Linked DNA regions of Homo sapiens. The protein of the gene in region 5 purifies or fractionates together with the protein of the main gene of each other region. This does not show direct contact. Each region holds a gene or a part of one and is shown on either strand. Other genes may lie near its edges.

Region 1 (4,220 bases), on a different chromosome or scaffold from region 5:
TTGCAGATCTCCCCTATCAAATGCATTCCACCAAGGTCAAATGGTTCTGCTTTTTGTTATGGCAATAGAACATTCAATCTGGAGAGTGACAGGAGGCAAATATGATGAACTGATATGAAACTGAGAAAAGCTAAAATATTTGTTAGTTTCCCCTAGAAGTCTCCCTGAGACAAGTCAACCTTATATTTCACACAGAAAAGGTTAAAAAACAATGACAATGCCAGTCCCAGCAGGACCTGGAAAAATTAATTCTCACAATGAACTTGTCCTTTCGGCTTGCTGTGTTTTTGGCCTGCAAACTATCTGAAAAGCAAAGATAAAGCCAGAAATCTCCCTCCATGGAAAAGCGTCTTGATTTATCACTCGTAAGGTACTACTAAGTAGCACGCATGGAAAAAAGAAACTCATGCTGTCAGGATTTATTATCTAAGACTCCATAAAACTCACAGTTCCCTGCTAATAGTGACTTTAATATTTCAGTTGGGCAGTTCCAAAACAAAAAACCTCAACCTGCAAGACCTTGGGATTAAACTTTTCTGCCTCACCTAAAAATGCCAAAATAACCATCCGAATGGATGAAGGCCCACAAACCTTAGGCAACTTCTGGGGGTGCTTCTCCATCTTCGTACACAGCGTCAGCTCACACTGTAGAAAGAGCAGTGAGGTGTTGAAGACAGGCTTGAAGACAAAGCTGAATCGCTTCTTATCCATGTCAGCTTGCGGGATAGGAAAGTGCACTCTCTTGGGACTGTAGAATTTCACAGATTCATCTTTAGGACAAATATTCTCAATAATGGTGTAATGAGACATCCTATCAGGGTTCGAATATGGAGAGATAAAGCACGTTTGGATGGCAAATCCCAGTTCTTGTTCAGCCTTAGTAACAGATACCTATGAAAGAACAGAAAGATGAATTAGGAAATGAGTTAGCATCTCACTTTCACTTTAGGCACAAGGACCATATGCCAAGACAGCCCTTCAGATGACACGCTGCTTTATCTTCATAACATAGTTATAGCCTTCTTTCTAATTACAAAAGTAACACACACACATTGAAAGAAAAAGATATTTTCCACTTCAATTTGATATAGATGATGACAGTGAATTATTTCTTTCAAATATTAGTCCATTAGATTCAAATACAAGATGAGTAAGTCTCTTCCACCTCCCAATGAGTCCTCTGAGAGCTAAAAATAAAAACATATTTTGCATTTAAAGTGGATTTTCCGAAGTAAATAAAACACCAGTAGGCAAAGTCCCTAATGTTTTAATAGTACAACACTTATAAGCTAAGCTCTTTTTAAAGACTGACCAAAAAATAGAGTTCAGCGGCAAAATCTATTTAACCTAGGCAGGAAGACTGAGCTTCTAAATTGCAAAAAGTCAGAGTAAGCCTGATGAGAGTCCTGCTTCATCGGCGAGAAGGCAGAGCTGGCTCCGGCGCTGGGTGTCAGTGACGGTGCAACCTGGAGGCCATCATGGGCCTGGTAAAGTGTCCCAGCTGCTCACAGATCCAAATCAGCCTTGCCAAGTACTCCCCCTTCGCTCCATAAGCCCAGGGGTAGTTTAGGGGAAATCTAATCTGGAAACGTTTCCGACTCATTTATACTTCCCCCTTTGAAAACACTTGTATGGGCTACGTCCAAATTTTGTTAAGGTTCTTTTCCTTAGAAACAGGAAGTAATGTTTAGCCAAGTGTAAACAGAATTCAAACCTCAACTATCCTGAACTTAGCTAAAATCCCCAGACCAGAGGAGATTCTCCATTTGGTGACACGTGGATCACTGCATGAACTGCCCCTCCCTGCTATGCCTCATTCTTTGACTAAATTTAGGATCAAAATAAACTTAAACACTTGTAGAAACAGCTAGTCCTTACCCATAGACCAACAGCCGCAGAATCATTTCAAAAGACATGGAGATAGAAACAGACTTTCCACGCTGAGATACCCAGGGGAAACCCCTGACATCACATGGGGCTTTGAATCCGCAGCACTGTTGTGAAAGATTCCTACGTGGTGGTTAACTGCAGGACACTCAACAGTGAAAATGCTAATGAAGAGGATTCTGATAATGTCACTGTGGTGACATTCTGTAAATACTAACACTTCAGTATTTTTGCAATACTTCTGAAAAACAAGATATTCTATCTTGGAAAGGTGGCAAATTACATATGTGCTATTACTAAAAACTGCCGTTTAACATGAACTCAGAAACCACATGCCAAAATGTGTAACAGAGGGACTGCAAATCTCTTCTCTAATCTCAAAAGAAAGTATGTAGCGGCAGAATGTCTAAGGTATCCCAAAAAGGGATACCTTTGTAGCAGAGGGAAAAAATATATATTATTTTTTAATATATTTTATGTATATATAGTTTATATATATAAATTATCAGCAAATCTTTTACTAAAAAGGATTTTACTTTTAGACCAGAAGTGAGTAGGAGAAGGACTACGGGCTTTGTAGTGAGACGAGCTCATAAAAATTACATGCTCTCCTGCTCACGTGCTGGGCACCGAGACTCAGTTTACTCACCTACAGAATGAGAACACGAATACCCACAAGATATCATAATTGTGAAAACTAGCAAAGTAAAAGTTACATGCAAACAACACAGTTCCCAGAGTGTCAATAAATGCTACCTATTAGTAATAGTAGTATTCTAGATTTAAAATTTTGGGTTATTAACAACTGGGTTTGTAAATTCCCCAAGACAAATGAACCAAAAGAAAACTGCCATTATGTGACCAACAGTCACCTGGAGATGACCAATGAACAGGTGGCAACACTGTTAACTTGGATTATGAAAGGGACTGTATGGTGTAGAGGGAATAGAGGATAAACTATGAGAAATATAGGTGATATATGAAAAGGTATAAATGGGAAAACAAGAATGGAAAAAAAAAACTACCAATAACACACTTCAAGTAAGCCAGCATTTGAAGGATGGGGGAAAAAACCCAAAATATCCAGGGTAAGGTACAGGAGGAAGATTGACCACTGATTAGCATAAATCAGCAAAGCCAGGCATAGATTTGGAAAAGAACAATCTGCAATTATGCAGCACCCCTGAAATCCACAGCGCAATAGGGTGCTGTTGACCAACTGCCCATGTGAACTGTACAGCCAGAAAAGCAAGAGAAAAACAGCCATCTTGGCTTAGGAAAAGCATGTAGAAGGCAGTATATTTTCCCCAATGGAGAAAGAAGGTGTGCTCAAAGAAAGAGAACTCTCAGAATGGGGGAGGGGCAGAATCCATATGATCAAGGAAAACAACATCTAGCGCCAGCGGGCTCTGTCCCAGAGTCAGTGCGAATGTGAGAGTTATGTGTCTTTCCAAAACAGAAACACGTGCACCAAAGTCACTTTTAACATATGGAAGTACCCCACTTTGACCCTTTAAGCTTCTCACCCCTCCCACTATGAAGCTGAGCTTGCAGCTGAGCACCAAAACCAGCTCATTAGATGAGGACCTTCCCATAAGACCAACAGATGATATGCCCACTTGAAACACTAAGGTTGAAACATGAAAGGTTGTACCCAGGGCACAAGAAACAGCAGACATCCTGGTGCCATAAGGACATTTATCTTTTCTAGAATCCACTCTCTGAACCTGGATGTTTGCATTGATAAGACGTTATGTTTTCTCCCCTTTCAAATGGCACTTTGGAGATAAGTGATAGTCGTATCCAGCGAAGATCAGTCAGAGCTCTGGAGTCACACGGCCTATGAGCACTGAATCTGAACTCCACTAGTACCAGCTGTGTGGCCTCAGACAAATTTGTGCCTCAATTTTCTCATCCATAAAATGAAGATATTATTAGCCTCCCTTATAGGATGGCTCTAAAGAGTTAACTAACTGCTGCAATACTTACAACTCTGTTTGGCACATAATAAATCTGCAGCAAATGTTAGATGTTGTTATTTCATTATTACCGCCACTGCCTAATATTGTGTAGTCACTCCAGATTCCAGATTTAGGTTGCACATGATTATTAACATTATATATAGGAAATAGTTTAAATAAGTTTATACAGATACTCAGATCATGATCTAGAAAAAAAAATGTCATGAGTTATAATAGCACATAGCATTTCACTTAAAAGTGAGTGCAATTTAAAAGATAACAAGTCAGTTTCAGTGGCGGCATGGACCCACAGGGATTTGGCTGCCCTGCTGGGGGCTAAGGGGACTGTGCAGGGAAAAAAAAAGAAATAAA
Region 2 (4,220 bases), on a different chromosome or scaffold from region 5:
AGCCTTGACCCCACCTGGCATCCACAAGGTGGAAGGAGATGGTGTGAGGCAGGAGAGTCCACACTCTGACTCCCTCTCCCCCAGCCAGGTCAGGGCCCAGTAGGAGCTGAACTCCAACTCTACTCCACCCCTATCTGGCACCCATGACATGGCGTGAGGTGGTTAGAGGTGGGGCAAGTTGGCCCTCTACTTTCTCACCTCCTCTCTCCCGGGAATGGAAAACATTAATCATGCAAATATTAATGAAAAGAAAGCAGGAGTGGCTATCTTAATATCAGATGAAGCAAATTTCAGAAGGAAGGAAACTACTAGAGACAAAAGGACATTACATAATGACAAACAGTTCAATCCCCAGGAAGACATAACAATCCTAAACATGTATGCACCAAACAACAGAGCCTCAAAATACAAAAAGCAAAAATCGATAGAGCTAAAGGATAAACAGACAAATCCACAATTATGGCTGGAGACTTCAACACTTCACTCTTGATAACTGACAAAACTATGAGGCAGAAAATCAGCAAGGATACAGAAGAACTCAACACCAGCAACCAACAGGACATAACCGACATATGCAGAACACTCACCTAACAAGAGAACACAGTTTTTTCTAAGTGTCCACAAAACATTCACCATGGTAGACCAAACCTCAGCTAATTTAAAAGAATTGAAATCTTGACAGGGCACGGTGGCTCACATCTGTAATCCCATCACTTCAGGTGGCCAAGGCGGGTGGATCATTTGAGATCAGGAGTTGGAGACCAGCCTGGCCAACATGGTGAAACCCTGTCTCTACTGAAATTACAAAATTTAGGCTGGGTGTGGTGGCTCATGCCTGTAATCCCAGCACTTTGGGAGGCCGAGGCAGGTGGATCACTTGAGATCAGGAGTTGGAGACCCGCCTGGCCAACATGGTGAAACTGTCTCTACTGAAAATACAAAATTTAGGCTGGGCATGGTGGCTTATGCCTGTAATCCCAGCACTTTGGGAGGCCAAGGCAGGTGGATCACCTGAGGTCAGGAGTTCAAGACCCGCCTGGCCAACATGGTGAAACCCCGTCTCTACTAAAAAAATGCAAAAATTAGCTGGGCATGGTGGCAGGCGCCTGTAATCCCAGCTACTCAGGAGACTGAGGCAGGAGAATCGCTTGAACCCAGGAGGCAGAGGTTGCAAGGAGCCAAGATTGTGCCACTGCACTCCAACCTGGGTGACTGAGCAAGACTCCATCTCAAAAAAATAAATAAAAATGAATAAATAAATAAAAATAAAAGAATTGAAATATTTTATATAAAGGAATAAAACTAGAAATCAATAACAGAAAAGACAACAGGAAAATCCACAAACACAAATTCCTGGAAAATAAATGACACATTTCTAAATAATAGCAAAGGAAAAAGTTAAAGTACACAGAATAGAATGAGAATGAAAATACAACATATGTTACAGTCACTGTGGTGCCAAGAGCATTAGAAAGCAGAAAAGGCCGGGCACGGTGGCTCTCTCCTATAATCCTAGCACTTTGGGAAGCCGAGGCGAGAGGGTCTCTTGAGCCCTAGAGTCCAAGACCAGCCTAGACAACATGGCAAAACCCCATCCCTATAAAAAATGCAAAAATCTGCCGTGCATGGTGGCATGCACCTGTAGTCCTAGCTACTCTGGAGGCTGAGGCAGGAGGATCGCTTGAGCCCAGGAGGTCAAGGCTGCAGTAAGCCGAGATCGTGCCACTGCCCTCCAGCCTTGGTCTTAGCAAGACCAAGACCCTGTCTCAAAAGAAAAACAAAAACAAAAAACCAACCAAACAAATGAAAAAAACCTACAAATTATCTTTATCAGGAACAAGACAAGGAATGAAATTATAGATCCTGCAGCCATTGAAAGGATAAGGAACTATTACAAACAATTTTACGCCCACAAATTTAGCAACCTAGATGAAACAGACCAATTCCTTGACAACCACAAACTACCAAAATGAATAATCCTATACTAATTAAAGAAACTAAATTTGTAACGTAAAAGCTCCTTAAAAAGAAATCTCTGGGCCCAGATGGTTTCACTGAAGAATTCTATCAAACATTCAAAGAATAACAACATCAATTTTATACAATCTCTTACAGAAAGGAGAAGAGAGGACATGTCCAACTCATCATCCTAATACCCAAACCAGTGAAAATAAGTACAAAAAAAAAGAGGCCGGGCGTCGTGGCTCACGCTTGTAATCCTAGCACTTTGGTAGGCTGAGGCAGGAGGAACACCTGAGGTCAAGGAGTTCAAGACCAGCCTGGCCAACATGGCGAAACCCTGTCTTGTAGGGAGACCCCCTGAAACTATTGCTATGGAATAAAAGATGAAATGCTCCTGATTACTGTAAATACAAAGTTGCATTCAGGATTGTGTAAAGACAATGCCAGGTTGGACTGTCAGAATGAGCCAACAGCACGTGATATGCTTCCCCCTGCAGAGAGCCTATGAACGGACATGCAGTCAGGGAGCTTTCACATCACCAAGATTCCTATCCCAGAAAAGCAGATGTTCATAGCTCTGGGAATGGAATGCGACCCTTGTGGAGAGCCTACAAACGGACGCATGGGGGGCGCCTGTCCATATGGATAAGATAGTGCTATAAACGCCCTCATCTTGCCACGGCTCTTCTAGGCCTCTTTAGGGTTAAGGCATACTCCCTTCTGAGAATTTCTGGTCTAACTGGCTGTCTAGCTTCACGTCCTGTTTCTATGGATTGTTTGTAACCAGCTTTTGCTGCAACTATTACTGCTGATTAATATCTTGCTAATCATAGGTTATGGAAAGCCTGTGTTTCTGTTTTAAGGCTGTTAGAAATTACTGATGCACATGCTATATTGTAAATTCTTATCTCTGTATACTGTACTTCTGCATACAGATGTTATGTTAAAGAATTACTTCATCCCCATGTGACCATCTCACCTCATAATCAAATGACCCTAAATCCCTCACTAACCTACCCCCGCCCTCACTAAACTTAATAATAAATGCTGGTATATCCAGTGCATTGGCGGCATCGCAGGACCAGAAGGCGGTCACCCCCCGGACCCAGCTTTCACTGTCTTGTGTGTGTCTATTATTTCTCGACCTGCTGATCCGCCTGGGAACAAATAAAAGAGCCCCGTTGCATTGTGGGCTTCTGGCCAGATCCCACAATACCGTCTCTACTAAAAAATACAAAAAATTAGCTGGGCATGGTGGTGGACGCCTGTAATCCCAGATACTCAGGAGGCTGAGGCAGGAAAATCACTTGAACCCGAGAGGCAGAGCTTGCAGTGAGCCGAGATTGTGCCACTGCACTCCAGCCTGGGTGATAGAGCAAGACTCTGTCTCAAAAAAAAAAAAAAAGAGAGAGAGAAAGCTACAGGCCAATATCACTTATGAACTTGGATGCAAAAATGCTCAAAATATTAATAAACCAAATCCAGCAGTGTATAGAAAGAATCACAGCATAGTGACTCACGCCTGTAACCCCAGCACTTTGGGAGGCCGAGGTGGGTGGATCACGAGGTCAGGAGATCCAAACACGGTGAAACCCCGTCTCTACTAAAAATACAAAAAATTAGCTGGCCATGGTGACGGGTGCCTGTAGTCCCAGCTACTCGGGAGGCTGAGGCAGGAGAATCGCTTGAATCTGGGAGGTGGCGGTTGCAGTGAGCCGAGATCGCACCACTGCACTCCAGCCTGGGTGACAGAGCAAGACTCCATCTCAAAAAACAAACAAACAAAAAGGAGTCACGGCATGACCAAGTAGGGTATGCAAGAACGGCTCAATGTTCAAAAATCAACCATGTAATCTATCATATTAACAAGCTAAAAAATCAACTCCTACAGGAAGGAACAACAAAACCCATATCCATTCATTATAAACACTCTCAGCAAACTTAGCAAAGAGGATATCCTCAACTTATAGGGCATCTACAAACACCCTACAGCTGTACCATTTTTCTATCATCTCTGTAGGGGGGGGTGGCAGATGGAAGGCCCAAACTGTGTTGAACTTTTCATCTTCAAACAAATGTGTAAACTTTTTTTTTTTTTTTTCAAGACAGAGCCTTGCTCTGTCACCTAAGCTGGAGTGCAGTGGCACAATCACAGCTCACTGCAGCCTTGACCTCCTAGGCTCAAGTGATCCTCCCGTCTCAGCCTTCCAAGTAGCTGGGACTGCAGATACACACCACTGGGCCGGGCTAATTTTTAA
Region 3 (4,220 bases), on a different chromosome or scaffold from region 5:
CAGGTAGATCTCACTCATGCCCTCAGGGGAGGGCACTAGGAGTTTAATGCAGAACTTCTGGCCGGAGACGTTAACATCGGGAACCACCTCACAGCCTGGAGGGAGAGAAGGGGTGGTCTAGGAGGTCGGGAGGGGAAGAGCCGCCTGAGGTCCTGGAGTGCATCCTAGCCCACACCGTCACCTCAGGACAGAGGGCATCTTCCCCGGTCTCCAGGAGGAAACAGGGCCGGTGAGAGCATTCACCTGCCTAGCCCACAAGTGGGGATCCCCCCACCCAGCCCCTGGCCCTGTGCACTTACCCTTGAGGTTGAGCTGCTGAATGGGGTCCCCAGGGGCCTCGTCCTGGCTCTTGTAGTAGGACAGTGTGGTCTCCTTGAACACCACCCAGTGTTGGCGGTAGCCCTTCAGGGTCAGCTTCCGGGGCCTTCGTGGGATGCTGGGGTTTGTGAAAGGCCGCCTCACCCCCTCCCTCCATATGCAGACCAACCCCTCCAGCAGGGCTGCCTACTCTGGCCCCCAACTCACCGAAAGATTCGGAGATGGTCCTTGAGCTCTGGGATGGTGGTGAGGCTGTCCTATGGGAGGACCAGAGTCAGAGGGGCACCCGGTACCTCACAGTTCTCCCTGCCCAGCCCCTGCCCTGAGCCCCTCCTCACCAGCACATCTGTGGGCGCCGACCCCTCCAGCTTCACCTCCAGGTTGCTCAGGGCCACATCCAGGTCGTCCAGCCCTGGGTCTGTGCCAGCCGGCTCCCCCACCTCCCCGCTCTGGGACAGCTTGTTGATGTGGTACTAGGTGGTCATGAAGCCAGGGAGGGCTGAGTCCAGCAGCCTGGTCCCCTAGCAGTACCCCCAGGCCGGGCTTCCCTGGAGGTAGCCCCCACTCAGGAAGGCCCTTCCTGCCCTGGGACTGGCTCACCTCCCACCTGCCCTGGTGCCCCCAGGCCCGCCTGGTACCTGCAGGGCGGCAAACACCATCATCTCCTCCTCGGTGCAGTCAATCTCCTCCAGCAGCAGGTCCCACCGGGCCTGCTCATACAGCTGTGTCAGCCGCACGGGGTCTGTCTGGAGCGGGGGGAGAGGAGGCTGGAGGCTGGGCTGGTCAGATGCCAGCTGCCCTGGACGCCCTGCACTGAGCCCCTGCCAGCCTTGGCCCTCTGCCCTGCCCTCCTTGCTGAGGCAGATTCATTCAGTGGCCAGACATGGGCCACAGACCTCAACCCCATCCTTAATAGCCTGCTAGCCCCCTGCTGCCCAGGCCTGCACGTCTAAACCTTGGCTTGGTTGTGCTGATGTTTACTGTGTGCTGGCATGCTGCCCTGGGTGCAGGAGAGACCGAGTAAACCAATCAATAAGTCAAATAATCCAAGGCTGCAATAAACACTATCAAGGAAACAGTTTCCACAGGGAAGCTCACATGAGCCCTCAGTCTAAGGCCCCCCCAAGTTCAATGGAGATGACAGAATGGAACATGGGGAAGCAGTCAGGGAAGGCTTCCCTGAGGAGGTGACAAGCTGAGTAGAGATAGGAAGGATGACAGTGGGCCACTCAAGGGAAGCGTGAAGGAAGAGGATTCCAGAGAAAAGGAACTGGGAAGGCAGAGACTCCAAGAGGGGATCCCAGTTACCCACAGAAGACCAACAATCCCGCTGAAACTCACCCAAAATTGATAGCAAAGGTTTAGGAAGATAAACCCAAAAGGACAAAGGACAGGCCGGGGCGGTGGCTTGCGCCTGTAATCCCAGCACTTTGGGAGGCCAAGGCAGGCAGATAGCTTGAGCCCAGGAGTTTCAGACCAGCTTGGGCAACATGGTGAAACCCTATCTCTACTAAAAATACAAAAAATTAGCCACATGAGGTGGTGCGTGCCTGTAGTCCCAGGTACTCAGGATGCTGAGGTGGGAGAATCACCTGAACCCATGAGGTTGAGGGTGCAGTGAGCTGTAATTGCACCATTGCACTCCAGCTTGGGGGATAGAGTGAGACCTTGTCTCCAAAAGAAAGAAAAAGAAGGCCAGGCGCAGTGGCTCACGCCTGTAATCCCAGCACTTTGGGAGGCCGAGGTCGGTGGATCACGAGGTCAGGAGATCAAGACCATCCTGGCTAACACAGTGAAACCCTGTCTCTACTAATAATACAAAAAAATTAGCCAGGCGTGGTGGCGGGCGCCTGTAATCCCAGCTACTCAGGACGCTGAGGCAGGAGAACGGCGTGAACCCGGGAGGCGGAGCTTGCAGTGAGCCGAGATCGTGCCACTGCACTCCAGCCTGGGCGACAGAGCGAGACTCCGTCACAAAAAAAAAAAAAAAAAAAAAGGAAAAAGGAAATAATTTGGAAGATGGAGAGCAAACTGTAGATGGGAACTGGGTTATGCAGAGAGCGCTAGGGCCTCACGCCTTGTCCCTCTCCTGTCTGGTAAATCCACCAATGAGACTTGAAAATAGGCGGAAAGCAATCAGCAAAAAGAACAGAGATCTCAACAGAGGCATCCAGTTTGCATGGCGGACCCCTGGCAGGCTCTGATGGGGATCCTCTGGATGAGATGCGAGGGTGAGCTGAAGAGAGGACTCTGGATAAAGTCCAAGAAAAAAAGCAGGTCCCTCCCCAGCTCCATGCAGCCAAGTGATGGCAAGGAGACACCTGGCAGAAGCTGGGACTCACTCTCTGGAGATGCTGAGCCAGATGCACCCCTGCATTTGGTACCCCAGACACAGCTGGACGGGGTGGGGGTTGCACTAGGGTGAAAACAGACAATTTTTTTTTTTTAAGATGGAGTTTTGCTCTTGTTGCCCAGGCTGGAGTACAATGGCACGATCTTGGCTCACCGCAACCTCCGCCTCCCGGGTTCAAGCGATTCTCCTGCCTCAGCCTCCTGAGTAGCTGGGATTACAGGCATGCACCACCACGCCCAGCTACTTTTGTATTTTTAGTAGATACAGGCTTTCTCCATGTTGATCAGGCTGGTCTCAAATTCCTGACCTCAGGTGATCCACCTGCCTTGGCCTCCCAAAGTGCTGGGATTACAGGCGTGAGCCACCGTGCCCGGCAAAAACACAAATTTAAAGAAAGCTGGCATTCAGATGAGTGACACACCCACACCCTTTCCCACTTGTCACCCAAGACATTGGCAGGAAGCCTTCTATCTCCAGTTGAAAGATCAGTGGGGTTGCCACTGAGAGGCTGAGCCACCAGAGAAATGCCCGACAAAGAGTGGCAGCCCGGCCCCATCGCCTCCAGGGGGCCACCAAGATGCCAAGCCCTACTCACACACTCAGGGTCTCCAATTGGTTTCTTAGAGCTTCACTTTTAAATATGAATGGACAGGCATGGACTACCCACATTTAAGGAAAGCTTCAAGAGTGAACCATAGAGACCAAGACAACAAGAATAAAACAGCTTGGAGGAAATAAAGGCCAGGTAGGGCGCAGAAGAGAACTTCAAACGTGAATCAAAATCCTTGTAGAGTACAAAAATTAGCTGGGCATGGTGGCACCCGCCTTTTTTTTTTTTTTTTTTTTTTGAGATGGAGTCTCGCTCTGTCACCCAGGCTGGAGTGCAGTGGCGTGATCTCGGCTCACTGCAAGCTCCGCCTCCCAGGTTCACGCCATTCTCTTGCCTCAGCCTCCCAAGTAGCTGGGACTACAGGCGCCCACCACCACGCCCGGCTAATTTTTTGTATTTTTAGTAGAGACAGGGTTTCACCGTGTTAGCCAGGATGGTCTCGATCTCCTGACCTCATGGTCCGCCCTCCTTGGCCTCCCAAAGTGCTGGGATTACAGGCGTGAGCCACCGCGCCCGGCGAAAAAATCCTTATAGAGGCTGGGCCCGGTGGCTCACGCCTGTAATCCCAGCACTTTGGGAGGCTGAAGCGGGCAGATCACGAGGTCAGGAGTTTGAGACCAGCCTGGCCAATGTGGTGAAACCCCGTCTCTACTAAAAATACAAAAATAATTAGGCCAGGCGTGGTGGTGCATGCCTGTAATCCCAGCTGCTCGGAAGGCTGAGGCAGGAGAATGGCTTGAACCAGGGGGGCAGAGGTTGCAGTGAGCCGAGATCTTGCCATTGCACTCCAGCCTGGGTGACAGAAGAAGACTCCATCTCAAAAAAAAAAAAAAAAATCCTTACAGAGCTAAAGCACTGCACTCATAAATCAAGACCAGAATATTCTTTTTTTAAAGGAATGTAACTGGGCGCAGTGGCTCACGCGTGTAATCCTAGCAC
Region 4 (4,992 bases), on a different chromosome or scaffold from region 5:
AAGGGGTTACTCTGTAAAAATGCACTAATGAAGAAAAGAAGATTTATTATCACACAGATTCAGTGTGCTCAATGGGAGGATACAAAATTAAGAGACGGAGGTGCATGTTTTTAAAGATATGTAAATATAGCAGTGGTTCTCCATCTTTAGAAGGACCTGTAGGGCCTGTTAAAACCAAGACTGCTGATGTCCAGCCCAAGTTTCTGATTTAGTAGGTCTGGGGTTGGGCTAGGGTTGCCAGAAAAAAAAAACAAAAAAACGGCAATGCCTAGTTGAATTTGAATTTCAGAGAAACTTTTTATGTTCCAAATTCTGCAATATTTTATTTTTATCTGCTAAATCTAGCAACCCTAGAATTTGCATTTCTAACAGATTTTGAAGAGATGCTGATGCTGCTGGTCTAGGGACCTTACTTTGAGAACCACTGAGATATAGGATATTACGTTATCACCAAAAAGGAAAAACTGGGGGAGGAGGGAAGCTGAGTAGATCAGGTAAGAGTTCCTGAAGGAAAGGACAAGGACATGGGATGGGTCTTTAAGGGTGCCTAGAAGCTAGCCAGAAGAATACTGAGAGGAAAGCTTTGAGCAAAGGGGCAGAAATGTCAGAAAATGCCTGACGTTTTAAGGAAATTACAAGAAGCTTAGTGTTGCTGGTGCATAAAGTTTAATGCAGGTGGTGGTAGATAAAACTAAAAGGACAGAGGCCAGAAAGTACTAGGACCTTATGTACCCTGTGAAAAAGCACTTAGGGGTTTACACTGTAAAACAGTCAGCTTACCCGATGGGGAGCAATTTAAAGGATTTTAAGCAGAGCAGGGACTTGATCAGATTTGCATTTTTAGAAAGATCATTTGGGTGGAGGATCAGAAGCATGATTATGTGTTCAAGAGTATTTGAAATACGGTTATTTATGGAAACCATTTTTAATATAATTCTGCACAGACACAGACTGCTGGAGGCTACACCAGAGAAGGGAAGGAAATAGAACAATACTCAATTCATTATGAAATTTATTTAAAGTCCCTGCTAACTTGGCTCTCACTGATGCCAGAAGGACAGCATTTAATTTTTAAAGATACCAAATAAAAATGCATGGTTACAAAACTTTGTAGTTGTCTAGAATACATTATTTTGAACATTTATTCTTAAGCCTCTTTGATAATGTGTAAAATTATTTAAAATAAGACTTAAAAACAGGTATTGACATTATAATAGCGTTCATGCTAATGAAAGAATTTCTGCAAAAAAAATTAAAAAAATTAAAAAGCAGCTTCCTATTTACTGCCTATTTCATTTCTTAAGCATGTTTATGCGCCTTTCTACTTGTCAGAAATAAAACCCATTACAATGAAGATGTCCAGACTTAAGGCTCAAAGGAGGCTAAGTGTTAGTCCAGAGCTGGAAATCCTGGAGGCCAGTCCTATTTTACCAGAGTGGACCTAACGGGCTTTAATTTTCTCAACTGTGAACTGAGTTAGAATAGATCATTTGCAAAGCAGCATTCTCCTTTACCAATTTCCAACATCAGCAAAGGACATCTTCACCTATTTTCAAACAATATTTAAGGACAAAAATGTGTTGTCCAGTGTGTATATAAAAGACATTAAAATATTCTTGGCTTAATCAAGGTCACTTATCTAAGATTCTACATGTCCTGAAAGACCAAGCGTCAAAAGGAATATTCCTTTCAGTGTTCTTTTTGAGTATATTTCGCTATGGTACCAACAGCTATATTAGCAAAAGACATAAAAGTGCTGCCTTGGAATGACACTTGTTTTCACTGCACATTCATAGTACAAAACCTGTGACCCATCAGTTTTGCGGCTGAAGGGAAAAGTTAATTTGTCCATATTTCATTTTTCCTTATTTAAAATAAGGAGATAATCGATAGGAACAAAAGCTAAAATATACAGTGGCCATGAAGCAGGCACCACTTAGAAACCTCTGTATTAACGTTAGGAGCCAAGTTTTATTACCCAAAAGGGCAGGCTGGCTGAGGAGTGGAGGCTGGATGCATCGTCTCAGCAAATGACTACTGCAAAGCTGCCACGCTTGCACAAACTCAGGGATGTTTATTTATTAGCTTGTTTCCTCAAAATGAGTTTAGGTCATCAGCAGAGATTAAAGCAGGCCTCTACACCACTCTATGAAATCCTGATTCCCACGGCGCATTCTGGGACAGTGAGTGTCCACGAAGACCATACCTGTAATCGCAAAGCTTGGGTTGACAGCCACACTGCTGCTTGCAAACCATACAGTAACTGCACAGGGGCACGTTGCCCCGGATCCAGTGGTGGGGCATGGCGTCCAGGACCTTGGTGTCATTCTTGAGCATAATCTCCTTGCACTGGAAGCGCTTGTCGGCCTTCCTGAGGCAGCCCTCGTCCACGCGGAGCCCGCAGCAGTCGCAGAAGGCGCCCTGCAGAATGTGCTGCGCGCACACGCAGCAGTAGGTGGGCTGGCTGAACAGGTCCGTGTCGCGCCACCCGTGCTTGCTCTTGCGGAAGATGTCCCTGCGGTGCAGCTGCCGGCGCGACCGCTGGAGGCTACACCAGAAGGTGATGAACACCGGCAGCAGGACCGAGCACAGCGTCCACAAGATCAGGTGCCCGTCCGCAAACAGGCCCTCGGAGGGCGAGCCCGGCGCCGGCCGCCTCTCCGCTTCCATCTTCTCCAAGGACGATACCTAACCAGAAAAGAAACAGGCGGTGCACCCCGAGCTCGCCATCCCTTCCCCGCCCCCTTCCTGCCTTTCCGGGGCCAAACCGGGCGCCCTCAGTGAAGGTGGCTCCGCTCTCCCGAGGGCGGGACTGCGCCTCGTCCCCCCGTCTCCCGGGACCTGCCGCGCCGAGAAGGCGACGTCCAGCCATCACGCTCCAATCCCCACTCCCCAACCCGCCCCACCTCGGGAGCGCGTCCAGGAGCCCAAGGCGGCTGCTGCTGCCGCCGCCGCCTCACCTTGCCGCCGGTCTGACCCACGGAAGGGCGCAACATACAGGGGCAAGCTGCCCTCCACCGAAAGGCCGGGCGTTCAGGCCAGGCAACGCCGGTCGGCGCCCGTAACCGTCGGCCCAGGCCTCGCACTCCCCTCCGGGGCGCCGTCTCCTCCCGGGCCCCACCCGCTCCCACGCGCGGCCCGGCGACCCTAGCCCCTCTCGGGAGGCCTCCGGAGACCTGCGCCGCGCCGGTCCTCGAAGCCCTACCTCGCGCGGGTGGAGGCGCGGCTCCGGGCCAGCAGGCCTTGGCCGCCTCGCGCAGGAGGAGAACGACGCTGGGCCGCCAGCAGGGATGAAGCCGGGCGGGGGAAACGCTTAAGGCTCCAGCCGCACGCACGCCGATCCGGCGCGCGGGGCCGCGAGCTGGAGGCGGGGCCTGTGGCGGCGAGCCCCGTGGCTGGGCGGAGCCAGGGCTGACGGGCGGGGCGGAGGTGTGAGGTGGGAGGGGAGACGGACCGGCCTGAGGGGGCGGGGCCGTGGAGGAGGCTGGAGACGGATGGAAGAGGCAGGGCACTGCGGCTGGGGGCGGGGCCTAGGGGAAGGGGGCGGAGTAACAGTGGGGCGTTTGAGAGGATGGAGGGTTGAATGCCAAAACTTCGTAATCGTAGAAAATTCTGGAAAGCCGCCGGCGGGGCAAGGCCACGAGGATCCTCCTCGCAGCACCGCGCCGCGCGGGGCCCAGGGGCCGCGCTCACGCCCGCCGCTCGGCGCAGACACGAGTGCCCCCGACTTGAGCCGAACCTCTAGCCGATGCCGGCGCCGCCGCCGCCGGGGATGCGTAAGCCGACTGGGAAGCGAGGGGGGGAGGCGGCCTGCGCGGCACCGCCCGACCTGGCCGCGGCGGGCTGAGGTAGGTGTGGCGGCCGCAGTAACGCAAACCTGAGGGCTCCTCCGCTGCGGAGCGGCGGGCGGGCGCGGAGGCCGAGGGCGAGCGGGGCAGCCGCCCGCTCGTCGCCGCTGACCCCGAGCCCGGCCGCGGTTTCCGCCCCCTGCCGTGGCGGGCGGGCCTCCCCTGCGCTACCCCCTCGCCCGCGCCCGCCAGCGCCCGAGGCCGGGGAGAAAGGGGAGCAGCGGGAGCCGGGGACTACCGGAGATGGGAGCACGCCTCCTGCTGCTGTCGTCCAGCCCCAGGTTCCGGAGGAATGCTCGCTCCCCGCTGGAGTCCTACCAGCCCAACACGGACCTGAGCCGCGACCACGCGGGCTGCAGCCTGCAGCACATCAGCTACCCGGAGAACGCGGACGCGGAAGCACCGCTGCTCAGCACCCCCGAAGAAACACGGAATCCAGAGAGGCACAGGCACCGCCCCGGCGCGCACAGCTGCACTCAGCGGCTTCCTTCCTACTACATACATACATAGGAGTGGGAGCCGAGGACCACTTGTTGCTTGCGGACTTCCTCTAGCATAAAAGATGGAAAGAAAACACACACCGAAGCAAGGGACCAAAGGAACAGAAAAGAAACGCAGAGATCATAGGAAAACTGCAAAGAAATACTTGATAATATCTTCCAAACGATTAGAGAAGACATAACATTCATTAAGAATACACATATAGATGTATATATACGTGTATGTGTGTATGTATATATTATTATGTGTGCATATATATGCATGTGTATGTGCGTATATTTGTATTAACTGTAGAAGATAAAGCTAGACACTAGTAAAAGTGGTAAAGCAGATTTTAATAATATACTATTGTAATAGGGAAGAAGGTACCTCGTGAACGGAACTGAACTTTGTGCAGAAGTGACTAGGTGTTTAAGAGGGAGGAGGAGGGAATGTGAAGGGGATGAGCAGGAACTCAGTAGTCAGGAAAGTGAAACTTGTGAAGGGTGGGTCAGTGTAAGTAAGGTTAGGCGACAGTGCCTGTTAGATGGCTGTTATGGGAGTCAGGGTCCTATCCTCCCACAGTAACTGGGAGATAGGCCCTTTGCTTCCTGGTGATTGCATGTTGGAGGAATGGCTTTCAGGTTCTTGAGAAGGATACTCC
Region 5 (4,220 bases):
AATGAGTTGTCCTCCTACGTAACCACATAATTATCACATCTAAGAAAATTAACATGATCTTATAGGACAGTAGTCCCCCCTTATCCGTGGGGGATACATGCCAAGACCCCCAGTGGATGTCTGAAACTGCATATAGTACCAAACCCTGTATATACTATGTTTTTTCCTGTTAGTGTACATATATACATATGTTAAAATTTAATTTACAAATTAGCCACAGTAATAGATTAACGACAATAATAATAAAACAGTTATAACAAAATACTATAATAAAAGTTATGTGAAGGTGGTTTCTCAAAATATTTTATTATGCTGTACTCACCTAGGTATTTGTGGACTGTAGTTAACTAAAGGTAACTGAAACTCGAGAAGCACAACCTCAGATAAGAGGGACTACTGTATTTAATATGTTTACATTTCTGTTTATGTTTACATTTCCCCAATTTTTGTCCCAAGAATTTTTTGTTTTTTCAAATCAGGATTCAGAGATTCAGAAGTTCATGTATCACCTGTGATTTTTATGTCTCTCTGTAAGCTTGCCATTTTGAACACTCGAATATATTACTGAAGTTAGCTTTGCAAACATTTCGTGCCTGATAAATACATCTGATGGATGTTTATAAACCAGTTTGAAAATTTACTTATTTCAAGGAAATAAACTTCCAAAGCAAATAGTAAATAATAATAGTTAACACTTACTGAGCTCTTAGGAATCAAAATGTTGACATTATTTGATTTAAGTTATTCTTAAAAACCGTTCTATGAGACAGTCTTTCTCAACCAGCGTTTCTCATTTGAACCACAGAACACAAAATCATTTAAATGACTGTTTTTCTAATGTTCTAAGGATGGTAGTATTCAAGATACATATGAGAAAATTTAATCTTTACAAACAATGGACAGATAACCTTAGAGGGCATTTGAGCTTATAAGTGGGGAAGTTAAATTGCTTAATTATATAATAAGTATTTGCAGTTAATTTGAATAGGTATTATTACTTATTATAGAAATATACCCTCGATGAGCATTTTATTTACTGGTAGCAATATTTTTTCCTCTCCCATTCCCACTTCCAACTTTATCCAGCCAAATTCTGAATTTGTTGAAATGCAAGTGATTTATACATTCTAAAGCCAATTCATTTTAATGATACAAATTATTCTTAAAAATCCAGTTGCTGCCTGTTTTTGCAAGTATTACTGTAACTACACTGTATCTTTTTCTTCCCAGAAACTTACAGCCTATTTAGATCTTAACCTGGATAAGTGCTATGTGATCCCTCTGAACACTTCCATTGTTATGCCACCCAGAAACCTACTGGAGTTACTTATTAACATCAAGGTATAAGAATGTTGACTGTTTTTGATGAATGATGCCTTCATAGTGTTCTGGAATTCCCTGTTGAGAAATTAGCCCTATAGGAGCCCATTTTATCAGACTGTAGTTAAGAATTTTACAAAGAGGAACTAATACTCATGGTTTTTGTTTTTAATGTTTTATATCTTGAAATTGAAATAAATTTCTCAAATAATGTTTTAAGTTTTCCTAAAGAGCCAGGGAGTAAATATTAGCCAACTACTTAATTCTGGTGCCATAGACAATACGTAAAACAGATGAACATGACTATATTCCAAAAAAAATTCTACTTATAAAAACAAGCCGGGGGCGGTGGCTCATGCCTGTAATCCCAGGACTTTGGGAGACCTAGGTGGGAGGATTGCTTGAGGCCAGGAATTTGAGACCAGCCTGGACAACATAGTGAGAACATAAACAAACAGATGGTGGGTAGTAGTTTGGCAACCTGTTCCATACCATAATGTGTAAGAATTTTGTCTTGTTTCTCTAGTCTACTCAGTGTATGTTCTGAGATAGTCATGTCATGTATTCTTTTCTGAATGTAGGCTGGAACCTATTTGCCTCAGTCCTATCTGATTCATGAGCACATGGTTATTACTGATCGCATTGAAAACATTGATCACCTGGGTTTCTTTATTTATCGACTGTGTCATGACAAGGAAACTTACAAACTGCAACGCAGAGAAACTATTAAAGGTAATACTTTTTAAATATTAAAGTGTTGGGCAGAAAAGTTCATTGCATTAAACTAGATTTAGGTGAAGCCTAGTCATTGTTACCAATATACCTGCCATGAGTGAGGTAATATTGTGTCGTTATATAATATTTCCAGGTTTCTATAGAATTATCTTAATTCCATTTAGTAAGTCCACTCTTTTCAGGTGGAGAGAAAAGGTCAATGTGAAATGTCATTGCCTTGAGATGATGGTACCTCATTTTCCATCTAGTTAGTCACCCTGTCCAACTTCCCATCCTACCACTTTGGTTGAGCCATACTGAAAGGGTTTTTATTATCCAGAGGGTGTCTTGGGACCAGCTCTTCAGCTGTGTTTTCAGGGATCTGGATTCTAAGCAGGCTGTTTGCCTTTTGGATCATATTGGGAATAATCACTGTCAGGGTAGTTGGAAAGGAATTTGGGTGAAGAACTAAGAGCATTGATACAACTAATGTTGTAGCTTTGCCAAATCATTTAACTTTTATTTTCTCACCTGAAATATAAGAATTACAGTATCTCCCCATTTCCTTTTAAGAGCATTGTGAAAATAAAAAGAAAGTACATGTGGCAGCTGTGGAAAGTAAGAAGTGCCATTCAGATACACTGTGGTGTGATTTCTTTGGAATTGTGTCACCCAGTAAAAGTGCTTTCCTGGCTTTTTGCTAGCATTTTAAATAATACTGTTCTCTCATCTCCGGCGGTTGAGTCATCTGAAACCAGCTTGATTTCTTTTTTTTTTTTTTTTCCAACTTTTATTTTAGATTCAGGGGTACATGTGCAGGTTTGTTACAAAGGGTATATTATCTGATGTGAGGTTTGGGGTACAGATGATCCCATCACTCAGGTAGTGAGCAAAGTACCCAATAGGTAGTTTTTCTTTTCTTTTCTTTTTTTTATTATACTTTAAGTTCTGAGTTACATGTGTACAATATGCAGGTTTGTTACATAGGTATACAGGTGCCATGGTGGTTTGCTGCACCCATCAACCTGTCACCAAATTAGGTATTTCTCCTAATGTTATCCCTCCCCTAGGCCCCCACCTCCCGACAGGCCCCAGTGTGTGATGTTCCCCTCTCTGTGTCCATGTGTTCTTATTGTTCACCTCCCACTTATGAGTGAGAAGATGCAGTGTTTGGTTTTCTGATCTTGTGATAGTTTGCTGAGAATGATGGTTTCCAGCTTCATCCACGTCCCTGCAAAGGACATGAACTCATCCTTTTTTATGGCTGCATAAAATTCCATGGTGCATATGTGCCACATTTTCTTAATCCAGTCTATCTTTGATGGACATTTGGGTTGGTTCCAAGTTTGCTATTGTGAGTAGTGCCACAGTAAACGTACATGTGCATGTGTCTTTATAGCAGCATGATTTATAATCCTTTGTGTATATGCCCAGTAATGGGATTGCTGGGTCAAATGGTATTTCTGGTTCTAGATCCTTGAGGAATTGCCACACTCTCTTCCACAATGGTTGAACTAATTTACACTCCCACCAACAGTGTAAAAGCGTTCCCCAATAGGTAGTTTTTCAACCCTTACCTCCTCCCTCCCTCCCTCCCTTCCTTATAGTCCTCAGTATGTATCATTCCCATCTTTATGTCAGTGAGTTCCCAGTGTTTAGCTCCTATTTATAAGTGAGAGCATTGTAAGGTAGGTATTTGGTTTTCTGTTTCTGTGTTAATTCATTTATGATAATGGCCTCCAGCTGTATCCATACTGCTGCAAAGGACATGATTTCTTTTTTATTGCTGTGTTGATTTCTTACATTTTAAAATTCTCTTGGTTCATAATTTTTTTTAAAGTCAGCCTTACACGTGCCATGAAATTTACCCTTTTTAGTGTGCAACTCTGAGTTTCCACAAAGATACACAAGGTCTTGCAAGCACCACCATAGTCAAGATACAGAACATTTTCAATACCTTCAAGTTCATGAATTTGTAAGCAGTCTGGATAGCATTATTAATGTTGCTGTGATCTGTCAAGATATTAATACTTGGTTCAGAAAAGGGAGAAAAATTACTTTTCTTCAGTGTAAACATTCAAACTGTAGAAGTTTTTGTGGAATATAGAGTGAAATACTTCTATATGTCTAAATAATAACTATAAAAATGATGTGAATATTTATTATTAAAGAATCAAAATTTTAAA
Region 6 (4,220 bases), on a different chromosome or scaffold from region 5:
TTCTGAAATCATCAGGGGTTTTAGTTTGGAAGTTAAAACAAAAAACAAACCCTTACACATATTAGGCAACATATCTGGGTGTGTGCTGTGTGTTGGGGTCAGATCTCTGGTTCACTCAGCCTCTAACACTGGCTCTTTGTGATTTCCTCATTTCCCTTTAAAATCCTGTTAATTTTGTACCAGTTATAATGATTGTACCAGTTAGAGAAATCCTCCCTGAATACCTATGTGGGGATAGGTCTGTCTAATAGAGGTAGTTCATGCTTCAGCAGGAACACGGGGAGAGGAGAAGCCATGAGCAAAGGCAGGCAGGCAGAGGGGCAGCCTTACCTCCTGCCCCGAGCAAGCACCCTTGGCAAGTGCCTCCGCAAGAGTGGGGTTAAAGGTCAAAGGCACACTACAAAGCACGAAGGCAGATCCAGGGGCTTGCTTGACCACTAAGATTACTCTGGAAATAAAGAGTAAAGCACAGGGTTGGGACCTGAGAGCGTCCCCTATGCTACATACAGAGGCTTCCTTAGGTTCTTCTGCCTGAGAACACAGATAAGGGTGTGAGCCTACTGGTATAGTGGACATTTTATAGACACAGTACCAACCATCTTTACATGTTTCACGTATTTTCTGATTTGATCCAAATCTACACCCCTATTTTTCTACAGACACCACTATTGCAAGTAATATAAATATGATGAAAATAGCTCATTAACATCAGCTAACTAAGCTGTTAATAAAGCGTGCACGCATGCACACACACACACACACACACACACACACACATCTTAAAACCTGTTTCCTTGCAAATAAAGCTATAATGCACCAAGATGATTAAGGTCCACTGATCAAACATCAAACTATTTCCCTGATACGGATGAACGCACACACGTAACATACATCTTTTAGTGATGACACTTCTCCTATGCTTATTTATTAACTCATCAATTTTGTGTGTAAGACATAATAAGAATTTTTGCCAATATATAATATTTGTAAATGAAAAATATGTATATGGCAAAGATTTGGAGATAAGTCTGCCTTTAGCCCTCTTTATTTGATTATAACTAATCTCTAAAAAAGATAAGGTAGAAAGTTGAATGACACTTTAGAGTCTGAAATTTCAGTACTTATGACTGAAAGATTTAGAGTTATGTCCGTGACTTCCGTTATAGAATCAAATATCAGGATAATATAGCTTCATTCCCTTAGAAGCTATTATTTGGTGCCATTTTGAATGCAAGCTTCTTGAAATTCAGCATATATAACATTCGAAACAGCACAAACTAAACATATTTTCCAAGAGTATGGTATTATTCTTTAAATTAGCATTAATAAAGCATTTTCAGGAGAATATTGATATTAATCGGGTCACATGACAACTGGGCAGAAATTTGAGCCAGATCCTTTACGTAAAGTTCTAACTAAAATGTTACCATTTAATAACTATCTCTGAGATTTACATAGTAGGCCAATTCCTATAAAAAGATTATTTTGAATTGCCTTGTACTTGTGGGTTATTTCTGAAATTTTTTTTCCTATTACATATGGTAATAGACACAAATCTAATTTAAAAACATAATTGCTTTTGTTAGTCGATATGTTCAAGAATAAAACAGGCCCACTCAATTAAAAAGCTAGAGTACAATGATCAATCTTATTATTATTTGGCGGAAAATGACAGTATAAAAGCATGTTTTTAAAAACAGCAAAACTGTCATTTTGTAATGGAAATGCTGATTTAACTTACTGCTTTGCTACAATTAATATCCTCTAGGGTGAATTTTTTCCCCTGCATTAGAATTAATGAAATAGGTGCCAGCATTTATAGTGACAACATTGACAACACTGGCTTTAGAACGCACTGCTTTCTTTGTTTGGTATTTAGAAGATGATTTCCGTCATTTACGCATGCTTTAGTGTCAGCTGCACTCAGTTCCACATGTGAGCTGATGTTTCTAGGCCATTCACTGAAAGCATCTTTGCCCAAAGATAAAAATGGATAAAAGACTGTACTTACTGTGACAGTCCCCCAGACCATCTGTATTGCCACGCTCTATGTCCTGCTCAAAAGTCAGTCTTTTAAAAAAGGAAGGGAAAGAGAGACAGAAATGAATACAATAACGTGAGTCTTCAGAAATGAGTCAAGCTTCACTAAAGACAGTAACACAGTTTGATAAATTGAGTGGCAGGTGCAAAAAAGAAATACATAACAGCTTTAAAATTTATCTCTGAAGTTTATAGAAACGAGTCTTAGGTGACTCTCCAAAGAGAAGCCATGGTTTAAGCAGTGAATTCAGATATTATTCAGGGAGATAATTAGCTTGCAGATTATTTACATCCTTCTTTACTCTAATTCTCTGAGCATTTCTTAAACATTTAAGAAGTTTAGATGTTAAAATACACGCCTCATAGAAACAATATGGAAGTCTATAAATTAAAAAGAAAAATCTTTTTTTCTCTATTCTCTTTTTCACTCCTACCCTTGCCTTCCTAGGCAAGGTTTTTTGCCTAGACATTTATCTAGCCAAAAACTTGGACGATAAAGTGTTCAAAGGTCCAAGTGAGGGGACAGGAGCCGGTGGTGCATTTTGTGGAGACTGCTTGGTTATTTGTTCACTCCCAGCCCTGCCCCAGTCCTTGGGAGTATTACTCTCATTCTCTTTGACATGCTCATGTTTCTTCCAAGTCTACTAGGTCACCATTGGGCTGTACAAGCAACATGACATTAACAAAACCAATTTTAATAAAAGCTATTTTGATTTTTAAAATAAGCACACCAGAGTCACCTTCCTTTGGGGGCACTTTGTACATATTCCCATAATATAATTGAAACTCTTATTTTGCAACTGCTTTCAGAGTTTATTTATGAGCCGTATAGGAAAACTATTTTGAAAGTCACAGCTTGATCTAATAATCCACCGTGTTTGGTTTCTAATCTTTTTTGCCACATTAAAAATCAAATCCCTCAAAAGATGAAGATTTCTAGTGGTAATGACAGCCAATATTCATCATGCCCTGGAGCCCACTCTCCAAAGGGAACGCCCCATGTTTTAAGCAATGCCAGCATCATTGAAATATGAATGCAAACCTTAAGGAAACTATTTTGGGGTTCTTATATTGACTTAACAATAATTTTTTAAAATTCAGTCTTATAGCCTTCGGTCACATGTTGAACATAGAAAGGACATAGGTCATCTCATAGCTCCCCTCACCATGCTTTGTGATCCTTTCTCCTCCACCTTGAGGGTTCCCATGCAAAGGTACAGAGCTCTAAGATTATAGCATGTCAATAATGCTACTTGCAAAGCTGTTCTAATAATATACAGAGACTCAACCTTTTGCATTAGTCAAATTTCTAGGTCAGATTTTATAGTTATCATCAGCTCTGTTTACGAGAGTACTTGTCCTCAAATTATGCAGGTAGTGGTCATCAGATATGCCCTTGATCTGTTTGTTTAGCTATTCTGAAATAGGAAGGGAGGCTCACAGTGATTTAAAGATGGTTCTGTTCCCCCTTTGGATCTGAGGAGGTTGAAGAAATGGCTGTGTTGAAGAAAGATCTGTGCTGTCTAACCTCCTAAACTGCCTGCCACAACCCATCAAAGATAAACATTGAATACTTCTGCAAATTTATTTTGGATTTCACATCCACTGAAGTAAAAGCATAAAAAGAAACCTCTTAGCTAATGCCATCTAAGCATTTAAAGCCAGGGTAACAATTTTAAACACCAAAATCATAGGCATGGTGGACTGGCCTCATCTAGCTGATCTGTTGGAGAACTGCCAAGAATTGATTGACGGCCTGATGAGTAATAGGGTCAACTGTTCTTCAGCGCAGGAAAAGGTTTATTGGATGTATACACCATGCTTGCAGTACAATTACATTGCTTAACAAATGTTCTGCAATTTCTTCTCAGCCCTGCACAGTCAATTACAAAAGCCGGTTTTGCTATGGCTGGACAAACCACTCACTAATCTAATTGGTATCCTATTGCTCCTTTTCTCTGCTTTTCTCCCACCATGATGATCAAGGCAGGCACCTTCTTGTCTCTCTCTCCAGGGAATACATTGAAGCCCACTGTGTTTCCATTCTGTGTTTTTAATCAGTCCGAGGATGATTAATCAATTGGAAATCTGCCACATGTGATGTGGTGAGGCTCTATGAAATGGGAAAGGGTAGGAGAAAGGCTGACAGTCCCGTTGCTGGAGTTTGCACAGAAAGCTGT
Region 7 (4,220 bases), on a different chromosome or scaffold from region 5:
CTCACCAATGATGACCTTGGGCACATCCCTGGACTTTAGTCACTTCTGTGATTAGGGCTTTCAGTGAACATGCTGCCGACAGGGTAGGTTTTCTATGAATGCTTTCTTCCTCTGCCAGTTCTGATGTTCTTTGAGTCTATCCTTGGAGGTAGGATGAAATGGGCTAGGTTTGACCTAATGTTTTCTCATCCTTTAGCCACCTCCTCCTAGAGGCCCCTTTTTCCTTAGCATAGTTCTGTATGCCACAAAAGATGCAGAAAAAAATTAGACACCATCAATTTCCAAAGAGCTATAGTCTTCTGGGAAAATGACAAGCGATAGGGAGAATGTGAAAATGTCAGTGGATGCCAATAATCCCTGTGTGACATTTGGCCTTATCTAAAATATGCTAAGATAAAGAGGGATGGAAGAGGGTGGTATTTTCTGACTTCTGAGGTCCTTTACAACACTATCATTCTAAGATTCTCCTGTGAGTATATATGTGTCGGGGGAGTGGGTCTCTGCATGTCCAGATGTACATGTATGTTAACAAAAATAAGGAATGTGTCCGATATATGCAGACTTGGGACAATTCTTTCCCATTCTTTTTACTTTTAAATAGATATATAATAGTTTTATTGAGATATGATTCATGTACCATACAATTCACCCATTGAAAGTGTACAGTTAGGGCCGGATGTGGTGGCTCATGCCTGTAATCCCAGCACTTTGGGAGGCCAAGGCAGGCAGATTGCTTGAGCGCAGGTGTTCGAGACCAGCCTGGACAAAATGGCAAGACTCTGTCTCTACTAAAAATACAAAAAAAAAAAAAAAAAAAAGCCAGGCGTGGTGGTGCACACCTGTGGTCCCAGCTACTTGGGAGGCTAAGGTGGGAGGATTGCTTATCCCTGGGAGGCAGGGCTTGCAGTAAACATTCTCCTGCCTCAGCCTCCTGAGTAGCTGGGATTACAGGTGCTCGCCATCACGCTCACCTAATTCCCGCCCCCCAGCCCAAGGAGTCTTGCTCTGTCACCCAGACTGGAGGGCAGTGATGCGATCTCAGCTCACTGAACCTCTGCCTCCCAGTTTCAGGAGATTCTCCTGCCTCAGTCTCCCAAGTAGCTGGGATTACAGGCATGTGGCACCATGCCCAGCTAATTTTTGTATTTTTAGTAGAGATGGGGTTTCACCATGTTGGCCAGGCTGGTCTTGAACTCCTGACCTCATGATCCGCCCGCCTTGGCCTCCCAAAGTGCTGGGATTACAGGTGTGAGCCACTGCGCCTGGCCAATTTTTGTATTTTTTATAGAGATGTGGTCTCACTATGTTGCCCAGGCTAGTTTCAAACTACTGGGCTCAAGTGATCCTCCTGCCTCACCTCCCAAAGTGCTGGGATTACAGGCATGAGCTACCGGGTCTGGCGTATTACCCAATTGTTTTATTTACTTTCTCTTGATTGCTAGTAAGGTTGAGCCTCTTATGGTTTATTGTCTGTATTCATGTTGCCTGTGAATTACCTGTTTGTTTCCTTTGTTCCTTTTTCTTTTAAGTTATTTGTCTTTTTCTTCTTGATTTGTAGGTCTTTATTCTAGATAGTAAACCTTTTGTCATTTAAATATATTATAGGTATTTTCAATATGTTACTTGTTTTTTTAACTTATCTTTCATTGCATAGAAGTCTTTAATTTTTATGAGGTTAGGTTTATCACTCTTGTCCTTTATTAAAACTTTTAGGTTTTGTGTCTTTCATAGGAAGCCCTTCCTCATTTTAAAATTAGAAAATATTCTGGCCAGGCGTGGTGGCTCATTCCTATAATCCCAGCCTTTGGAAGGCTGAGGCAGGTGGATCACCTGAGGTCAGGAGTTCAAGACTGGCCTGGCCAACATGATGAAACCCCGTCTCTACTAAAAATACAAAAAATTAGCCAGGCATGGTCGTGGGCACCTGTAATCCCAGCTACTCACAAGGCTGAGGCAGGAGAATTGCTTAAACCTAGGAGGTGGAGGTTGCAGTGAGCTGAGATTGCACCACTGCACTCCAGCCTGGGCAACAAGAGTGAAACTCTGTCTCAAAAATAATAAAATAAAATAAAATAAAATAAAATATTCTGTATTTTCTTTAAATACTTAAGTTTTTTTTTAGTTTGTATAGTTCTTTAATACATCTGAACTTTATTTTATAAGATAACAGTTTGACGCTATGTTTTTTTCTACATGGAAATTTTCCCAAGGCCATTTACTGAGGCCATCCTTTCCCCACTAATTTAAAATAGGGTGAGAACCTTTTAATGGATTTTGGTACCAAGTGAGAAACTGCTTTCTTAAAAAGAATGAACTAGTTTATGCAAACTGACATGGGCAATGTGTATCTGCCCATTTCACTGCAGCCTTGCGAGTATTAGTATGGTTGTTGTATTGATTGTAATTTAAGTTAATTTAAATTACAACTTAATTTGTGTTTATATTGATACAAAGTTATTTTCATTTCTCAGTGATATAAATAATGGTATATGGAATACTTTATTGAATAGAATCAATGCCAAAACACCTGGTATTATAGAAAGCCTTAAAAAATGACTAGGGGCAGGCGTGGTGGTTCATGCCTGGAATCCCAACATTTTGGGAGGTCAGGGTAGCAGGATGGCTTGAGCCCAGGAGTTTGAGTCCAGCCCGGGCAATACAGTGATACCCTGTCTCTACAAAAAAATTTTTTTAAATTAGCCAGGTAGGTGGCACACACTTGTAGCCCTGCCTACTCAGGAGACTGAGGTGGGAGGATCACTTGAGCCTAGGAGGTTGAGGCTCCCGTGAGCTGGGATCGTGCCACTGCACTCCAACCTGCACGACAAAGTGAGACCCCATCTCAAAAAAATAAAGAAAGAAAGAAAATACAAGAAAAGGGCCGGGCACGGTGGCTCACGCCTGTAATCCCAGCACTTTGGGAGGCCAAGGCGGGCGGATCACGAGGTCAGGAGATCAAGACCATCCTGGCTACCACAGTGAAACCCCGTCTCTACTAAAAATACAAAAAATTAGCTGGGCCTGGTGGTGGGCACCTGTAGTCCCAGCTACTCGGGAGACTGAGGCAGGAGAATGGTGTGAACCCGGGAGGCGGAGCTTGCAGTGAGCCGAGATTGCGCCACTGCACTCCAGCCTGGGTGATAGAGCGAGACTCCGCCTCAAAAAAAAAAAAAGAAAATACAAGAAAAGAAGCGTGAAGACAGAGGCTCCCGCGTCACCTCTCATTTTCTTCCATTTTCTCTTCTGTGCCTTTCACAGGATCTTCTGCAGGACAACTGGTCCTTATCACAGCCAGGGTGACCACAGAAAGGACTGCAGGAACCTGCCTATATTTTAGTGCTGTTCCAGGAATCCTACCCTCCAGCCAGCCACCCATATCCTGCTCAGAGGAGGGGGCTGGAAATGCCACCCTGAGCCCTAGAATGGGTGAGGAATGTGTTAGTGTCTGGAGCCATGAAGGCCTTGTGCTGACCAAGCTGCTCACCTCGGTAAGAGCCTCAGATGGGTCGCCAGGGTTTTGTAGACTGCCTGCTGACTACTGTATCTTGAAGGTCCCTGGAAACAATTCTACCTTGTAGAAAAAGCACAGGTTTTATAACCCTGCCTTGGGGGCTGTGTGACGTAGAACAAGTGTCTAAACATCTCTGAGTGTCAGCATCCTCATCTGTAAAACAGAAAACATGACCCTATCTCTTAATTCCATCAAATAAGGATTAAATGAGAATGACCGTGAAGTGCCCAGCACATTGCCTGGGACATAGAGATTTGATAAGTGACAGCTATTGTTGTTTACTATTGTCTTTAAAACATTCTCTCTACTTCAAAGGAGTTCAGAAGCTATAATAAGAGGCAAATGGGCTAATTGCTATTAGAGAGATGTGAGCAAAGTGTTATGCAAACACAGAGAAAGGAGCCATTAACCCTAACTTGAACATTTATGGAGAGTGCATCACAGAGAAGGTGGCATTTACCAGAGAGCATTGTGCACAGTGGTTTATAATGCACAAAGTGCTCTCAGGGTTCATTAATTCATTTGATCTTAAAATAGCCTTTTGAGGTAGGTGTTATTATCCCATTTTACAGATGAGGAAACAGGTTTAGAGAAAGGGAGTGAATTGCTGCAGGCCACACAACTGGTTAAGTGGCAGAGCCAGGGTTGCAACCCACACCTTCTGTCAAGTCAGAATGATCCTTGAAGAATGAGGAAGATTTGGACAGGG

Evidence for each region.
Region 1: the proteins of ITM2B (region 5) and TGFBR3 purify together in Homo sapiens (affinity purification with mass spectrometry; 3 studies listed by BioGRID and IntAct, with this or other methods). This does not show direct contact.
Region 2: the proteins of ITM2B (region 5) and CHST12 purify together in Homo sapiens (affinity purification with mass spectrometry; 3 studies listed by BioGRID and IntAct, with this or other methods). This does not show direct contact.
Region 3: the proteins of ITM2B (region 5) and FERMT3 purify together in Homo sapiens (co-immunoprecipitation; one large-scale study listed by IntAct). This does not show direct contact.
Region 4: the proteins of ITM2B (region 5) and DGKE purify together in Homo sapiens (co-immunoprecipitation; one large-scale study listed by IntAct). This does not show direct contact.
Region 6: the proteins of ITM2B (region 5) and SEMA6A purify together in Homo sapiens (affinity purification with mass spectrometry; 3 studies listed by BioGRID and IntAct, with this or other methods). This does not show direct contact.
Region 7: the proteins of ITM2B (region 5) and TMEM219 purify together in Homo sapiens (affinity purification with mass spectrometry; 3 studies listed by BioGRID and IntAct, with this or other methods). This does not show direct contact.

The regions. Positions count from the first base shown.
Region 1 is NC_000001.11:91,711,652-91,715,871, forward strand, and holds part of TGFBR3 (transforming growth factor beta receptor type 3 isoform a precursor), read right to left. Parts: intron 892-4,220; coding exon 592-891; intron 1-591. UniProt on the Homo sapiens protein: Cell surface receptor that regulates diverse cellular processes including cell proliferation, differentiation, migration, and apoptosis.
Region 2 is NC_000007.14:2,427,345-2,431,564, reverse strand, and holds part of CHST12 (carbohydrate sulfotransferase 12), read right to left. Parts: intron 1-4,220. UniProt on the Homo sapiens protein: Catalyzes the transfer of sulfate to position 4 of the N-acetylgalactosamine (GalNAc) residue of chondroitin and desulfated dermatan sulfate.
Region 3 is NC_000011.10:64,216,095-64,220,314, reverse strand, and holds part of FERMT3 (fermitin family homolog 3 short isoform), read right to left. Parts: intron 1,065-4,220; coding exon 957-1,064; intron 792-956; coding exon 657-791; intron 576-656; coding exon 526-575; intron 437-525; coding exon of another isoform or gene 425-436; coding exon 300-424; intron 96-299; coding exon 1-95. UniProt on the Homo sapiens protein: Plays a central role in cell adhesion in hematopoietic cells. Acts by activating the integrin beta-1-3 (ITGB1, ITGB2 and ITGB3). Required for integrin-mediated platelet adhesion and leukocyte adhesion to endothelial cells.
Region 4 is NC_000017.11:56,832,474-56,837,465, reverse strand, and holds the start of DGKE (diacylglycerol kinase epsilon), read right to left. Parts: upstream 3,316-4,992; 5' UTR 3,206-3,315; exon of another isoform or gene 2,997-3,205; coding exon of another isoform or gene 2,961-2,996; intron 2,689-2,960; coding exon of another isoform or gene 2,671-2,688; coding exon 2,207-2,670; intron 1,107-2,206; exon of another isoform or gene 1-1,106. UniProt on the Homo sapiens protein: Membrane-bound diacylglycerol kinase that converts diacylglycerol/DAG into phosphatidic acid/phosphatidate/PA and regulates the respective levels of these two bioactive lipids.
Region 5 is NC_000013.11:48,256,896-48,261,115, forward strand, and holds part of ITM2B (integral membrane protein 2B), read left to right. Parts: intron 1-1,230; coding exon 1,231-1,341; intron 1,342-1,901; coding exon 1,902-2,052; intron 2,053-4,220. UniProt on the Homo sapiens protein: Plays a regulatory role in the processing of the amyloid-beta A4 precursor protein (APP) and acts as an inhibitor of the amyloid-beta peptide aggregation and fibrils deposition. Plays a role in the induction of neurite outgrowth.
Region 6 is NC_000005.10:116,473,534-116,477,753, forward strand, and holds part of SEMA6A (semaphorin-6A isoform 2 precursor), read right to left. Parts: intron 2,071-4,220; coding exon 2,012-2,070; intron 1-2,011. UniProt on the Homo sapiens protein: Cell surface receptor for PLXNA2 that plays an important role in cell-cell signaling. Required for normal granule cell migration in the developing cerebellum.
Region 7 is NC_000016.10:29,964,767-29,968,986, forward strand, and holds part of TMEM219 (insulin-like growth factor-binding protein 3 receptor isoform 1 precursor), read left to right. Parts: intron 1-3,258; coding exon 3,259-3,488; intron 3,489-4,220. UniProt on the Homo sapiens protein: Cell death receptor specific for IGFBP3, may mediate caspase-8-dependent apoptosis upon ligand binding.